Regions from separate parts of the Homo sapiens genome. Here region 1 is linked to region 2. The links come from fine-mapping of genetic effects on gene expression. Tissue or cell type: whole blood. Region 2 holds a variant in brackets; the other region holds the start of a gene. All regions are shown on one strand. Distances are between the middles of the regions.

The links. PIP is the estimated chance that this variant, and not a neighbour inherited with it, causes the effect.
Region 1: it holds the start of GZMH, and the variant in region 2 is fine-mapped to the expression of GZMH in whole blood (INTERVAL, PIP above 0.99).

Annotation. Positions count from the first base shown.
Region 1 is chr14:24,606,148-24,614,255 of GRCh38, forward strand. It overlaps GZMH (granzyme H), which reads right to left and starts at 3,538. Exons shown (of 5, transcript NM_033423.5): 1 at 3,412-3,538; 2 at 2,118-2,265; 3 at 1,465-1,600; 4 at 1,002-1,259; 5 at 333-599. The coding sequence starts at 3,466. The coding sequence ends at 456. RefSeq lists an enhancer at 1-119.
Region 2 is chr14:24,646,552-24,654,659 of GRCh38, forward strand. No RefSeq gene overlaps it. Among named protein-coding and RNA genes, the nearest start is that of GZMB, 16 kb to the left of the region's middle. The variant C/T (reference allele first, on the strand shown) is at 4,187.

The DNA of each region.
Region 1 (8,108 bases), 40 kb before region 2:
CTCCATTCTCTGCTACGTTGTTAGGGGAGTAGGTAGTTGGTTTAGAGACGATAAGAAATTCCTAACGTCCAGAGAGGTTTATTTTTTTTTGTGAAGGGAGAGGGGTGAAGATTGTTTGTTTATAATGGAGTTCAAACCAGCTCTAACAGAGGGTTCAGTATCAAAGACATGTGATTGAGAAATTAGTGAAAAAACTGTACAGCATGGGGTTTAGGGAGGAGGGAGGGCTGGGGGAGAAAGGAAGAAGCAAAAGCCAGAACTGACAGCAGACGGCTGCCTGGAGCAGTGTTGTTGCATATTGAAGATGGTTCAGTGAATAAATAAGACTTCAGTCATATTTACACCAGAGATCCATTTATTACAGTCCTGCAACCCCGACTGCCCACCCCTTGGGGATTCTTGCCTCTGTCCCAGAGATGGTCAGGCCCAGAGGAAGGTTAGTCTCATGCCTGCTGTTAGAGGCGCTTCATTGTTCTCTTTATCCAGGGCAGGAAGTGTGAGACCTTGATGTAGACTCCTGGAGGTGTCCCTTTTTTGTTTCCATAGGAGAGAATACCTTGGGCTACGTCCTTACACACGAGGGGCCCCCCGGAGTCCCCCTGTGAACAGAGAGAGGAAAGACTGAGCTAGTGTTCCCTGGGATGGGTGGTCTCTGTTATGGATTTTGTGTGACATCAGTGCCAGGCAGGCCTTGTCACTCACCTCCCTCAGTCCTGGGTCTCCAGCATGGCCCTGGCTGTGCTTTCTGGCTCTCCCCAGACCAAGCCTTTCTCTGCAATTCTCACGGACACTTTGGTGATAAGTGACTGTCGGATGACAGATCCTTCCCCTCCAGCCACCCCAGTCCACCCAAGGAGTGGACTAAAGACTAGATTCCAGGGGGACACAGGCTGCCCAAGCTCTGGGCTGAGAGCATAAAGATCTGGCCACTGTCATACCCCAGAACTCCCTCAAGTTCCTCTCTCCCTGTGGTCTTTCTGGGTAGAGGCTGGAAACCCAACCTTGAAACCGGTCTGTGTCTTCTTTGGATCCCCCACACAAATCTCAGTGGCTCTGCTGTAATTGCCATGGAAGAGACGTTCACACTGGCAGTCCTTCTGCACTGTCAGCAACACTTCCTGCAGTGTGGTTGCTAAAGTGCTCATTGAGACATAACCCCAGCCAGCCACACTGCACAGCTGCCCTGGCTTCACCTGGGCCTTGCTGCTAGGTAGCCTGAGAGGCCGCACAGCTGTGGTCCACTTGGCCTTTCTCTCCAGCTGGTGGGGAAGAAGCAAGAAAGTCCAGGTCAGGCAATGGCCTTCTGGGCCCCGACACAGTGATGGGGCTGCACAATCTTCCCTCTCCTCTAAGGCACAGGAACTGACCAAGAGGTCAGGATGGAAAGGAGGAAAGGGCCGGCATCCCAGTGGGAGTGGAACCAACTGGACCAAGAAGAGCAAGAGTGGCAGGAGTGTGCCTCACCTGCAGTAGCATGATGTCGTTGGAGAAGTTCTTAGGATTATAGGCTGGATGGGGGATGGGTCTTTTCACAGGGATAAACTGCTGGGTCCGCTCCTGTTCCTTGATATTGTGGGCCCCCAAGGTGACATTTATGGAGCTGCACAGAGAGCAGAGTGAGGATGGGGGTGGAGTCACAGGGGATAGAGCCCAGGAGCAGTGAAGAGCAGATGACAGCTGTGGCAGGGTAGGGCTGCAGCTGAGGGGAAGTTGAAGGGACAGGAGGGCTCCAGGGCTGAGTGACTGTGCCCTCTACTTCACAAAGACATGAAGAGTAGGGCTTCTGGGGGCTCTCTCTTGCCTTCAGGAAATATCATGAAATTGCTCGAGTTTGCATTTTGATCCTTAATGCATGGATTCAACCTTTACTACTGCCTTATTGGGCCAGTGTGTGAAACCATGCCACTTGCTCTGACCTCTGACCCTCTGACCCTCTGACCCTGTCCTATTTCTCAGCCTTTCATCATCTTAGTCCTATTCCCAGGTGGCTGCTCCGATGAGCTTTCATGGGCTTGTGTTACCAGGAACTCTGGAAGCTCCCCTGGGCTGCAGTCCCCAGGAGAAAACAAGGGTCCCTGTAGGGGGAACTCAGGAGGTGAGCTGGTGCTGCTCCTTACCTTCCCTGGCAGTGAGCAGCTGTCAGCACAAAGTCCTTTCTCACTAGGATGCCGCCACACCTCTTCCGACTCTTCTCTTGCAGAAACTGAACAAAGGCCATGTAGGGGCGGGAGTGGGGCTTGGCCTCATGGCCCCCGATGATCTCCTCTGAAAGGAAAGACTGGAAGATAAAGTAGCTGGGGATGGCTGCAGTCAGGAGAGAAGGCTTAGGACGACAGTGATTGAGGGTGAAGTGTTTTGTGTGCTGCAGACAGTGAGGGAGGGGTCCTCCTGAGCTCTGCAGGCAGTACTCCTTGCAGGCAGAGCAAGCTTTTCTGAACTTTAAGTCTCAGAACCTTCTCTCAGAAAGAATGGACAGTGCTTGACTTCTGCATCCTACTGCAGAAACACACATGGAGGAAGAAAGATCTATTTTCACAGTGGTAGAGCCCCAGAGGATCCTGGACAGGACTTCCCAGGCTCCTCCTTTTTAGTGAGTCTCTCTGATTCCTCTGAGCCTCTGCTGTCCTCCTGATTGGTGCCATTTTCTAATGATCTACCCATGAGCTTCTGGAGTTGGATTTTCTAAAATTCTCATGTGCCAGGGCTGAACACATTCTAGGTTCTCAGTAAGTGTTGTTTGGTGCATAAATGAATAGCCTCCAATTAGCCTTTGGCTGAGGTTTAGTGGGGGTAGTGCTGGTGGGATTCAGGACCTCAGGGATGTTAGAGGGGGTTATCACCAGGTCAGTGGAGTAGCTGAGGGCCTGCAAAGGCAGAAGGAAGTGGAGAAATCAACTAAAAATGAATCGCAAAGCCCAGGTGGAGCCAAGGTAATGGGAGAGCTATGGACACAGTCATCTTGCCATCTCTGAGATCAGTTGCACCATGGGCTTCCCTCCTGGCAGGGGTGACTGGGTGGGGGCACTGAATAAGTGGTTCTTAAGCTGAGTCCAGTAACAACTCCTATGACTGCAACTTGGTGTCTGAGCTCCTCTTTCCTGGGTTGGAGTGTAGAGTAATAATTACTTATCTTTTTTAGCTTCACATTCCCTACCAAATGCCTTTCTAAGAACAATCCACACTCCAGGTCATAAAGGAGAGGTCTAGGGAGAGGCTAACACCCATTAAACCTTTTAGGGAACACCCTTCATTTTTCGATCTTTGCTGAGTGTCTATCTAGCCTCAGATTTATAAGTCTGGGTGTGGAATGGGAGGTGGGCTCAGATTGAGGAAAATTCCTGACCAGTGCTCATGGGTACAGGGTATCTTATAAGATGGGTTCAGGCCTCTGGAATAGGGATAGTCACTTACCTGTCCCAGCCCCAGGGGTCAGAAGAAAGGCCAACAGGAGGAGGAATGGCTGCATTTTCTCAGGAAGGCTGCCCAGGTCAGAGCTGTTGGTGTTGACTCCTTCCAGAAACAAATGCTGGAGGGAGATGAAGGAGGGATGGGTACAGTAAACTCAGAGACCTCCTAGACTTGTCCCCTTCTGGTTTTGATGGGTGTCATTATAGAAGGTGGTTTATTAAAATTATCTGGTTTGGTTTAAGTTGACATGGCACTGTCACATTTACACCCCTGCTGCTGAGTAACAAGGTGAAAGCAAGAATAAAGAACAAGGAGGTGGAGCTGTTGAAGCTGTGGCTGCAGCTAGCAGAAAGGCTGGTACTGCAGAAGCTCCTCAGTGACTGAGAACCAAGAATGTCTCCTTTTCTCAGTTCTTGGCTCTTTTTCTACTCAGATAAAATCATGAATAATTATTTAGCAAGCCAGATCCAGGGATATGAGAGACATGGCTCTTGCCCTTGAAGAATTGATGGTTAGCAAGAGTAGACTGAAAATCTGGGGTTAGAGCACAAGATGGTAAGGGCCGTGGTGGGGAAATCTGCCTGTTGGTGTGAGACGGAGGCTGGACTTGCCTTAGCAGTATGCAGAGTTGCACACACCCAACAAATACTGCAAATGGCAACCCATTCCTATCTTACCACTATCTCAGATTCATATTTTTGGGATATTTAGAATCCCCTCTTTAAATATAAATATTCTGTGACAAAGATAACTTTTTTTATTCCACAGTTCTGCACAAAAGTTCTGGACTTGATATTTATTGAACCAAAATGAGTCATCATTGGGTCCACTGAAGTGTAGTGGACTGATTGCTTTATGCTTTGGTTATTTAGCCCTCCTTAAGCTGAGGTGGGGACTGTTCCACTCCATCTATGGTGCTTATGAATGAGGAGGGGATTTCCCTTGAGAAATGCTAGTTGTTGTTGCCAGGTGATGGAAAAATGGATGCTGATCATCCTGATAATAATTGTTCACTAAGGCCGGGCGCGGTGGCTCATGCCTGTAATCCTAGCACTTTGGGAGGCCAAGACGGGTGGATCACGAGGTCAGGAGATCGAGACCATCCTGGTTAACATGGTGAAACCCCATCTCTACTAAAAATACAAAAAATTAGCCGGGCGTGGTGGCGGGCTCCTGTAGTTCCAGCTACTTGGGAGGCGGAGGCAGGAGAATGGCGTCAACCCAGGTGGAGCTTGCAGTGAGCTGAGATCGCGCCACTGCACTCCAGCCTGGGTGACAGAGCGAGACTCCATCTCAAAAACAAACAAACAAACAAACAAAAAACTGTCCACTAAGTATTCTCTCAGTTTCCAGAGAGCCATGTCTCTGATGTCCCTTGGCTCACAGTCATAGGCTGTCCATAAACAAAAATGTGTATATATACATATGTTTGTATATTTATGTATATGAATATATATAAATATATATGTATAGTTAAGTAGGAACATGTAAATGATAAAATTAAACTTACCAAAAATTCTACCACCGGAGATCATTATTAATGCTTAAGCATGTTTCCTTCTACTATTTTTCTAGGTATTTATAAGGTGCTATTCCTGCTATTACTTTAACAGAACTGGGATAGGACTTTAGGTGATAGACTTTTTTGTGATGAATTTTCCAGGTGTTCTTTGAGCTTCTTGTATTTGGATGTCTAGGTATCTAGCAAGGACAGGGGAGTTTTCTTCAATTATTTCCTCAAATAAGGTTTTCAAGCTTTTAGATTTCTCTTCTTCCTCAGGAACACCAATTATTCTTAGGTTTGACTGTTTAACATAATCCCACATTTCTTGGAGGCTTTGTTCATTTTTTAAAAATTATTTTTTCTTAGTCTTTGTTTGATTGGGTTAATTTGAAAGCATTGTCTTTGCGCTCTGAAGTTTTTTCTTCCGCTTGTTCTAGTCTAGTGTTGAAACTTTCCAGTGGATTTTGTATTTCTCTAAGCATGGCTTTCATTTCCAGAAGTTGTGATTATTTTTTCTTTATGATATCTATTTCTCTGGGGAATTTTTCACCCATATCCTATATTTATGTATATATATATTTTTTAATTTTTAAAGTTGTTTTTTCACCTTTCTCTGGTATCTCCTTGAGTAGCTTAATGATCTTCTGGATTGTTTATCTGGCAATTCAGAGATTTCTTCTTGGTTTGGATCCATTGCTGGGGAGCTAGTGTGATCTTTTGGAGGTGATATAGAACTCTGTTTTATCATATTACCAGAATTACCTTTCTAGTTCCTTATCATTTGGGTAGACTATTTCAGTGGAAAGGTCTGGAACTCAAGTCCTGCTGTTCAGATTCTATTATCCCATGGGGTGATCCTTTGATGTGGTGCTCTCCCCCTTCCCCTAGGGATGGGACTTTCTGACCACTGGACTGCATTGGCTGTTACTGCTTTTCTGGGTCTAGCCTCCCAGTGGCGCTACCAGGTTCCAGCTGGTGCTGGGGAATGTCTGCAAAGAGTCCTGTGATGTGATCTCTCTTCAGGTCTCCCAGCCATGGATACCATTACCTGCTCTGGTGGAGGTGGAAGGGGAGTGAAGTAGACTCTGTGAGAGTCCTTGGTTGTAGATATGTGTAGTGTGCTGGGTTTCTTGAATGCTGGTTATGCTAGCAGTGAAGTTTTCATGTGGACACACTCAGGACCTCTGTTTAGCCAGGATGTTGCAGGCATTGGAATTAGGTGTTATCTTCTCCTTCCTGGGTTCAGGGTTATTCTGTCATGAGTTGCTGTAATGGCCTGTGTTGTTTGGCCTCCAGCCAAGAAGTGGTGCTTTCAAGAGAGCACCAGCTGCATTGGTAGTAGAGGGATCTAGGTTTGCCCTAAGTTGGCCAGGGTGAGTATTTTGGTTTCTCAGATGATGGGTGGGGCCTGAAAGCTCCCAAGAGTTTCTATCTTTTGTGTTTGGTTACCAGGGTGAGTAAAGAAATACCATCATGTTGGGGCAGGGTTAGGTGGGTCTGGGCTCAGAGTCTCCTTGGGTGGGGTTTGCTGTGGCCACTGTGCGGGATGTGGGGGTGGTTCTTAGGCCAATGGGGTTATTTTCCAGAGGGGATCTTGGCTACCTCTGTTGTGTCATATAATTCACCAGGGAAGTGGCGGAAAGCTGGTAGCGAGAGGTCTCACCCAGCTCCCACACAGTTGGCAAGGCCAGTCTCACTCCCAAAGTGCCCCACTCAGATCTTGCCCAAGGCTGTGAACTTTCCCACTGAGAAAGCAAGCATGGATTTCAGATATCACCCCTCCCCATCTGCCCACTCCAACGGGAGTGGCTTCTTTGCTTCTGAGTTCATGTGCTCATATTGCCAAAGCTCCCACTCGTCCCCTAGACTCCACTAAAGAAAGTTTGTGTCCAATTGAAACCACTACCAATTTCAGTTGGAAGCTTCCTTCACCTGGTGACCCCTCCCCAATTCCACTGGCTGCCTTCCCTGAGAGATCCTGTGAGATATAGTCAGGAATGGCTTCCCTGGGCTCAAGCTGAAGATTGGAAGTGCCTTGCAGTCTTCTGATACTGATACTTCTACTTTTATATTTTGTGTGACTGCCTACATTTGTTTCAGTTCAAGGTAAGGTTAAATTCTCCCTTGATCTGGATTTTCAGATTCCCCAGTGGGGATGTGTGTTCAGAGGCAGGTTTTTTCCCTCTCACACTTTGGGAACTTACAGTTTTTCACCTGTTTTGCAAAATTTGCAGCAGTGTCCTGCTTCTTTCAAAGGGTGTGTGAATTCCTTTGGTTTTCCTGGTGTGTTCCCGTGGTGGTTCTTGGAACAAAAGAACACAGTATGAGTCTTCACATACTGTTGTGTCCATCTAAGTGGGAGTTGCATGTGGGTTTAAAGAAACCTGACTCATGAAGGACTTCCCATTTTTTGTACTGCCATGATCATCAGTGCATTATTACTGTCTCACACTGTTTCTTCATAGTGTCTCTCATCCTTCAGATCTCACCTTTTACTGGTATTATTATGGATCCTAGTAATTTATTTAAAAAACAGCAAAAGCTTAAACTCTCCTCCTTTGAGTCTCATGGGGTTGGAGTGGAGTTGTTGGTTTGGATCCTTGCCCAGGTAGCTTTCAGATCCAGCCCTCATCTTCCTGCTGCTCTTCTCTGTGACACAGTCTACATCACACAGATTTCTCTGTCTGACAGCTCTGTCTTCTTGGACCAAGCCAATGGGTGGTGCTGAAGAATTAGGGTCTTTTTCCTTCCCACTCTTTCTTCTTAGCTTGCGGACTGTTTCAGGATGACTCCTCTGCTCTCCTCCTGGCTCCAGCTCTCACCTGGCAGGCTAGATATGGTTTCATATTCTGCCAGGTGATCAGGGTCCTGGCAACACTGCTTGCTCCCTCCATGCCTCCAGCTAGGTGTGGTAGTGGCTTCCTGCTATTGCTAATCTCTCGGTTGATTCATTTTACCCTCTTTGGCTCCTGTCATGTAATCAGTTCCCTGGAATAAACTCCTTTTGTTTGCAAATATTTGGAGTGGTTTCTGTCTTCTTGGACCCTGACTAAGACACTCTGGGGTATTAATTTCTTAGTGCTGTTATAACAAAGTATTACAAACTGCTGGCAGCAGGCAACAGAAATTGATTCTTTCACTGTTCTGGAGGCCAGAAGCCTGAAATCAAGGTATCAGCAGAGTTGGTTCTTTCTGG
Region 2 (8,108 bases):
AATCTTCACCCCTGAAAGCACTCAGAGCCAAATTAGGTTATGATAACTTATAAACATTAAAGTCACATCCTCAAGGGGAAAAAAAGAAACAAACAACAACAAAAAACACAGTCAAATAAAAAGTGAGCCAGAAATAAATTAAAAAATAATTAGAAGAAATAGACTACCCAAAAGAGAAGAAAACAGAAAAATAATTCTGGCAATGTGACAGAACAGCATTCTACAACAACTTCAAAAGATCACAGCCACTCTCCAGAAATGGATCCAAACCAAGATGAAATCTTTGAAATACCACCAGCCTGGCCAACATGGTGAGACTCCATTTCTACTAAAAATCCAAAAAAAAAAAAAAAAAAAAAGAAAGAAAAATTAGCCGGGTATGGTGGCTTGCACCTGTAGTCCTAGCTACTCGAGAGGCTGAGTAAGGAGGATTGCTTGAACCTGGGAGGCAGGGGTTGCAGTCAGCTGAGATCACACCACTGCACTCTAGCCTGGGTGACAGAGTGAGACTCCATTTCAAAAAAAAAATTCTTTGAAATACTAGATAAAGAATTGAAAAGGTTGATTATTAAGTTACTCAGGGAGATACAAGAGAAAGGTGAAAAACAATATAAAGAAATGAGAATATCAATTTATAATATGAGTGAAAAATTTTCTAAAGAGGTAGATATTTTAAGGAAAAACCAGTTGGAACTTCCAGAAATGAAAAATATATTTAGAGAATTACAAAATGCAGTGGAATTACAAAACACAGTGGAATGTTTTAACAATAGACTAAACCAAGTAGAAGAAAAAATTTAAAAGACAAGGCTTTAAAATTAACCTAATCAGGCAAAAATAAATAAAAAAATTCAAAGAAATGAACAAAGTCTACAATAAATATGGGATTATGTAAAATGGCTAAACCTAAGAATGGCTGGTGTCCCTGAGGGAGAAGAAAATGCAAAAAGTTTGGGAAATTTATTCGAAGAAATAATTGAAGAAAACTTCCATGGCCTTGCTAGAGATTTAGTCATCCAAATACAAGAAATCCAAAGAACTTCTGGGAGATTTATTGCAAAAAGGACATTACAAAGGCATATAGTCATCAGCCTATCTAAATTTAATGGGAAGGAAATATTTTTAAGAGCAGGGAGAAAAAGGCATCAGGTAACCTATAAAGGAAAGCCTATCAGACTTCTCCGCAGAAACCTTACAAGCTAGAAGGGACTGGGGTCCTATCTTTAGCCTCCTTAAACAGAATAACTGTCAGCCAAGAGTTTTGTATCCAGCAAAATTATGTTTTATAAATAAAGGAGAAATACAATATTTTTTAGACAAGCAAATGCTAAGGGAATTTGTTACTACAAGGCCAGCCCTAAAAGCAATGCTAAAAGGAATTCTAAATCTTGAAACAAAAGGTTGATATGCACCAGAATAGAACCTTTTGAAAGTATAAAACTCACAGGGTCTATAAAACAATAACACCTGTTCACGCTGATGACAGTTTTTTTTGCTGTGCAGAAGCTCTTTAGTTTAATTAGATCCAAGTTGTCAATTTTGGCTTTTGTTGCCATTGCTTGTGGTGGTTTAGTCATGAAGTCTTTGCCCATGCCTATGTCCTAAATGGTATTGCCTAGGTTTTCTTCTAGGGTTATTATGGTTTTAGGACTTACGTTTAAGTCTTTAATCCATCTTGAGTTAATTTTTGTATAAGGTGTAAGGAAGTGGTCCAGTTTCAGTTTTCTGCATATGGCTAGCCAGTTTTCCCAACATCATTTATTAAATATCATCAGAGTGAACAGGCAACCTACAGAATGGGAGAAAATTTTTGCTATCTATCCATCTGATAAAGGGCTAATATCCAGAATCTACAAGGAACTTAAAGAAATTTACAAGAAAAAAACAAACAACCCCATCAAAAAGTGGGCAAAGGATATGAACAGACACTTCTCAAAAGAAGACATTTAAGTGGCCAACAAACATATGAAAAAAAACTCATCACTGTTCATTAGAAAAATGCAAATCAAAACCACAATGATATAACATCTCATGCCAGTTAGAATGGTGATCATTAAAAAGTCAGGAAACAACAGATGCTGGAGAGGATGTGGAGAAATAGGAATGCTCTTACACTGTTGGTGGGAGTGTAAAGTAGTTCAACCATTGTGGAAGACAGTGCAGCGATTCCTCAAGGATCTAGAACCAAAAATACCATTTGACCTAACAATCCCATTACTGGGTATACACCCAAAGGATTATAAATCATTCTACTGTAAAGACATGCACATGTATGTTTATTGCAGCACTATTCACAATAGCAAAGACTTGGAATCAACCCAAATGCCATCAAAGATAGACTGGATAAAGAAAATGTGGCACATATACCCCATGGAATACTATGCAGCCATAAAAAGTGATGAGTTCATGTACTTTGCAGGGACATGGATGAAGCTGGAAACCATCATTTTCAGTGAACTAACACAGGAACAGAAAACCAAATACCACATGTTCTCACACTTAAGTGGGAGTTGAACAATGGCAACACATGGACACAGGGAGGGGAGCATCACACACCAGGGCCTGTCAGTGGGTGGGGATCTAAGGGAGGGATAGCATTAGGACAAATACCTAATGTAGATGACAGATTGATGGGTGCAGCAAACCACCATGGGACATGTATACCTATGTAACAAATCTGCATGCTCTGGATGTGTATCCCAGAACTTAAAGTAAAAAACAAAAAACAAAAAACAATAACACCATGAAGAAAACAAAGTAACTAGGTAACAATCAATATGATGGTGAGGACAGTACTTCACATCTCAATATTAACACTGAAAGTAAATGGTCTAAATGCTCTACTTAAAAGATATGGATTGGCATAATGGATAAAAAAATTACAAACCAAATATCTTCTGTTTTCCAGGGATACATATAACACATAAGGATTCTTATAGACTCAAGGCAAAGGGGTGGAAAAAGATATTCCATGCAAATGAAAATCAAAACTAAGCAGGAGTAACCATTCTTATATCAGATAAAAGAGACTTTTAAACAACAACAGTAAAAAAAAGACAAAGAAGGTCATTATATAATGATAAAAGGATCAATCCAACAAGAAGATATTACCATCTTAAATATATATGCACCTAATTCTGGAGCTCCCACATTCATAAAACAATTGTTACTAGACCCAAGAAAAGAGATAACAGCAACACAATAATAGTGGGGGACTTCAACACTCCACTGATAGCACTAGACAGAACATCAAGACAGAAAGTCAACCAAAGACACTGGACTTAAATTGCACTCTAGAACAAATGGACCTAACAGATATTTACAGAACATTTTCCCCAAGAGCTACAGAATATACATTCTTCTCATCAGCGCATGGAACATCCTCTAAGATAGACCATATAGTAGGCCACAAAACATGTCTCAATAAATTAAAAACCATCAAAATCATATCACGTATCTTCTCAGACCACATTGGAATAAAAACTAGAAATCAATTCCAAAAAGGAACCCTCAAAACTATACAAATACATGGAAATTAAACAATCTTCTCCTAAATAATTTTGGGGTTAACAATGAAATCAAGATGGAAATTAAAAAATTATTTTAAATGAATGATAATGTGACACAATTCATCAAAATCTGTGGGATACAGCAGAAGCAGTGCTAAGAAGAAAGTTATAGCACTAAATGGTTTTATCAAAAAGTCTGAAAGTAGCAAATTGACAACCAAATGTTACACTTCAAGGAACTAGAGAAACAAGAAAAAATGAAACCCAAAGCTAGAAGAAGAAAATCAATAGCAAAGATCAGAGTAGAACTAAATGAAATTTGAAGCCAAAAATCCATACAAAAGGTCAATGAAACAAAAAGTTGGTTCTTTGAAAAGATAAACAAAATCGATAGATCATTAGCTAGACTAACCAAGAAAAGAAGAGTGAAGATTCAACTAAGCTCAATTTGAAATGAAAATAGAGACATTACAACCAACACCACAGAAATAGAAAAGATCATTCGAGATTGCTATGAACACCTCTATGTACATGTCTAGAGGAAATAGATAAATATCTGGAAACATACAACCCTCCTAGCTTGAATCAGGAAGAAACAGAAATTCTGAACAGACCAATAACAAGTGGTGAAATAGAATCAGTAATAAAAAAATTGCCAAGAACAACAAAAACAACAA[C/T]AAAAAACTCAGAGCCAGTGGATTCACAGCTGAATTCTACCAGCCATTCAAAGAAAAATTGGTACCAGTCCTACTGAAACTATTCCAAAAGATTGAGAAGAGGGAATCACCCCAAATTATTCTATGAAGCCAGTATCATCCTGATACCAAAGCCAGGAAAGGACATAACAACAAAAAAAGAAAACTACAGACCCATATCCCTGATTAACATACATGTAAAAATTCTGAATAAAATATTAGCAAACTAAATCCAACAGAAAATCGAAAAGATATGTCATCCCAGGGATGTAGGGATGGTTCAACATACTCAAGTCAATAAATGTGATTCATCACATAAACATAATCAAATACAAAAACTACACGATCATTTCAATCAACACAGAAAAAGCATTTGATAAAATTCAGCATTGCTTTATGATAAAACTCTCAACAAACTAGGCATAGAAAGAACATACTTCAAAATAATAAAAGCCATATATGGCATACCCACAGCCATCTCATATTGAACCGGAAAAAGTTGAAAGCATTCCCCCTAAGAACTGGAAGAAGACAAGGATGCCCACTTTCACCACTTCTATTCAACATAGTACTGGAAGTCCTAGCCAGAGCAATGTGGCAAGAGAAAGAAATAAAAGGGCATCCAAATTGGAAAAGAGGAAGTCAAACTATCTGTGTTTGCCAGTGGTGTTATTGCATGCCTAGAAAACCCTAAAAATTCCTACAAAAGACTCCGAGATTTGGTAAATGAATTCAAAAAGTCTCAGCTTGCAAAATCAATGTACCCAAATGAGTAGCACTGATACACACAAACAATGACTAAGTTGAATCAAACGAAGAACTTGATCCCTTTTAAGATGCCTGCAAGAAAAAAGGAAAAAATCCAACTCTCTAGGAATATACTTAACCAAGGATGTGAAATATTTCCGTGAGGAGAAGTATAGAACACTGCTGAAGGAAATCATAGATGACACAAACAAATGGAAATACATCTCATGCTCATGAATTGGAAGAATCAATATCATTAAAATGACCATACTGCCCAAGGCAATCTACAGATACAATGCAATTCCTATCAAAATACCAACATTGTTTTTCATGAAATTAGAAAAAAAATTAAAATTCATATGAAACCAAAAAAAGAGCCTGAATAGCCAAAACAATCCTAAGCAAAAAGAACAAGTCTGGAAGCATCACATTACCTGATTTCATGTTATACTACAAAGATATAGTAACCAAAACAGCAGAGTACTGTTATAAAAGTAGGTACATAGAGCAATGGAACTGCATAGAGAATCCAGAAATAAAGCCAAATACTTACAATCAACTTATCTTCAAGAAAGCATACAAAAACATGAACTGGGGAAAGGACACCCTATTCAATAAATGGTGCTGGGAAAACTGGCTAACCACATGTGGAAAAATGAAACTGGATCCCTATCTCTGACCATATACAAAAGTCAACTCAAGGTGGATTACAGACTTAAGTCTAAGACTTGAAATCATAAAAATTCTAGAAGAAAACCCAGGAAAAACTCTTCTGGACATTGGCCTAAGCAAATAATTTATGACTAAGACCTCAAAAGCAAATGCAACAAAAACAAACATAAAGAAATCTAATCTAATTAAACTAAAAAGCCTCCACACAGCAAAAGAAATAATCATTACGGTGAACAAAATGGGAGAAAATATTTGCAAACTATGCATCTGACAAAGGACCAATATCCAGAAACTACAAGGAATTCAAACAAATCAGCAAGAAAAAACAAATAATCCTATCAAAAAGTGGGCAAATGACATGAACAGACATTTCTCTAAAGAAGATATATAAATGGCCAACAAACATAGGAAAAAATTCTCAACATCACTAACCATGAAGGAAATGCAAATTAAAACCACAACTTGATACCACCTTACCCCAGCTAGAATTGCCATTATTAAAACGTCAAAATATAACAGATGTTGGCATGGATGTGATGAAAGGGGAATGCTTATACGCTGCTGGTGGGAAGGTAAATTAGTACACTCTATGGAAAACAGTATGAAGATTCCTGAAAGAACTAAAAACAGTTCTACCATTTGACTTAGCAATCCCACTACTGGGTATCTACCCAAAGGAAAATAAGTCATTATATGAAAAAGACACGTGCACACATATGTTTATTGCAGCACAATTCACAACTGCAGAAACATAGAACCAACCTAAGTGCCCATTGGACCATGACTGGATAAATAAAATGTGGTGTATATACACTATGAAATACCACTCATCCATAAAAGGAATGAAATAATGTCTTTTGCAGCAACTTGGATGGAATTGGAGGCCATTTTTCCAAGTGAAGTAACTTAGGAATGGAAAGCCAAATACCATATATTTTCACTTATAAGTGGGAGTCAAACTATGGGTACACAAAGGCATAAAGAGTGGTATAATGGACATTGGAGACTCAGAAGAGAGGAAGGTGGCAGTTGAGTGATAGATAAAAAACTATATATTGGGTACAAAGTACATTACTTGAGTGACTGATACACTAAAATCTGACTTCATTACTATACAGTTCATCCATGTAACCAAAAACCACTTGTACCCCTAAAGCTATTGAAATTTAAAAATAAAGGAAGGAAAGAAGGAGAAAGCAAGAAAGCAAGCAAGAAAGCAAGAAAAGCAAGAAAGCAAGCAAGCAAGCAAGCAAGCAAGCAAGCAAGCAAGCAAGCAAGAAAGAAAATAGTGCTGTGATAAACTTGAGGGTACAGGTATCCCTTTGATATACTGATTTCCTTTCCATTGGATACATACCCAGTAGTGGGATTGCTGGACCTTATAGTAGTTCTAGTTTTAGTTTTATTTAGAAACCTCCATACTGTTTTCCATAATGGTTGTACTAACTTACATTCCCACTAACAGTGTGTAAAAGTTTCCTTTTCCCTCATCCTTGCAGCATTTGTTATTTTTTATCTTTTTGATAATAGCCATTCTAAGTGAAGTGAGATGACATCTCATTGTGGTTTTGATTTGCATTTCCCTGATGGCTAGTGATGCTGAGCATTTTTAAATACATGTATTGGCCACTTGTATGTCTTTTATAGTGAAAAATGTCTATTCAGATACCTTGCACATTTAAAACATCAAATTATTAGTTTTTTTTTTTTTTTGCTGTTGAGTTCCTTGTATATACTGGACATTTGTTCCTTATTGGATGCATAGTTTGCAAATATTTTCTTCCGTTCTATAGGTTGCCTTTTCTCTCTTGATTGTTTTCTTTGTTGTGTAAAAGCTTTGTAGTTTGATATAGTCCCATTGTCTAGTTTTTTATTGCTTGTGCTTTTGAAGTCCTACTCATAAAATCTTTGACTAGACCAATGCCCTGAAGAGATTTCCCTATGTATTGTTCTAGTAGTTTTACAGTTTTTGGTCTTTCATTTAAGTCTTTAATCCACTTTCCTTTGATTTTTGAGAGATAGGGGTCTAGTTTCGTTCTTCTGCATATGGATACCCAGATTTCCCGGCATCATTTATTGAAGGGGATGTCCTTTTCTCAGTGTATGTTCTTGGTGCCTTTGCTGAAAATCAGTTGGCTCTAAATTCTTATACTTAATTTGAGGTTCTCTATTCTGTTCCACTGGCCTATGTGTCTGGTTTGTTTATTGATACATAATAATTGTATACATGTAATATTTTGATCCATGCATACAATATATAATGATCAAATCAGGGTAATTGATCACTATAATCACCTCAAACATTTATCACTTCTTTGTGTTGACAACATTCCAAATCTTCCTTTCTAGTTATTTTGATATATAAAATAAATTATTGATAACTACAGTCACTGTATTGTGCTCATACAGTAGAAATTATTCCTAATATTTTACTGTATTTCTGTAGGATTAACCAACCTCTCTTTATCCCAGCCTCCGGTAATCA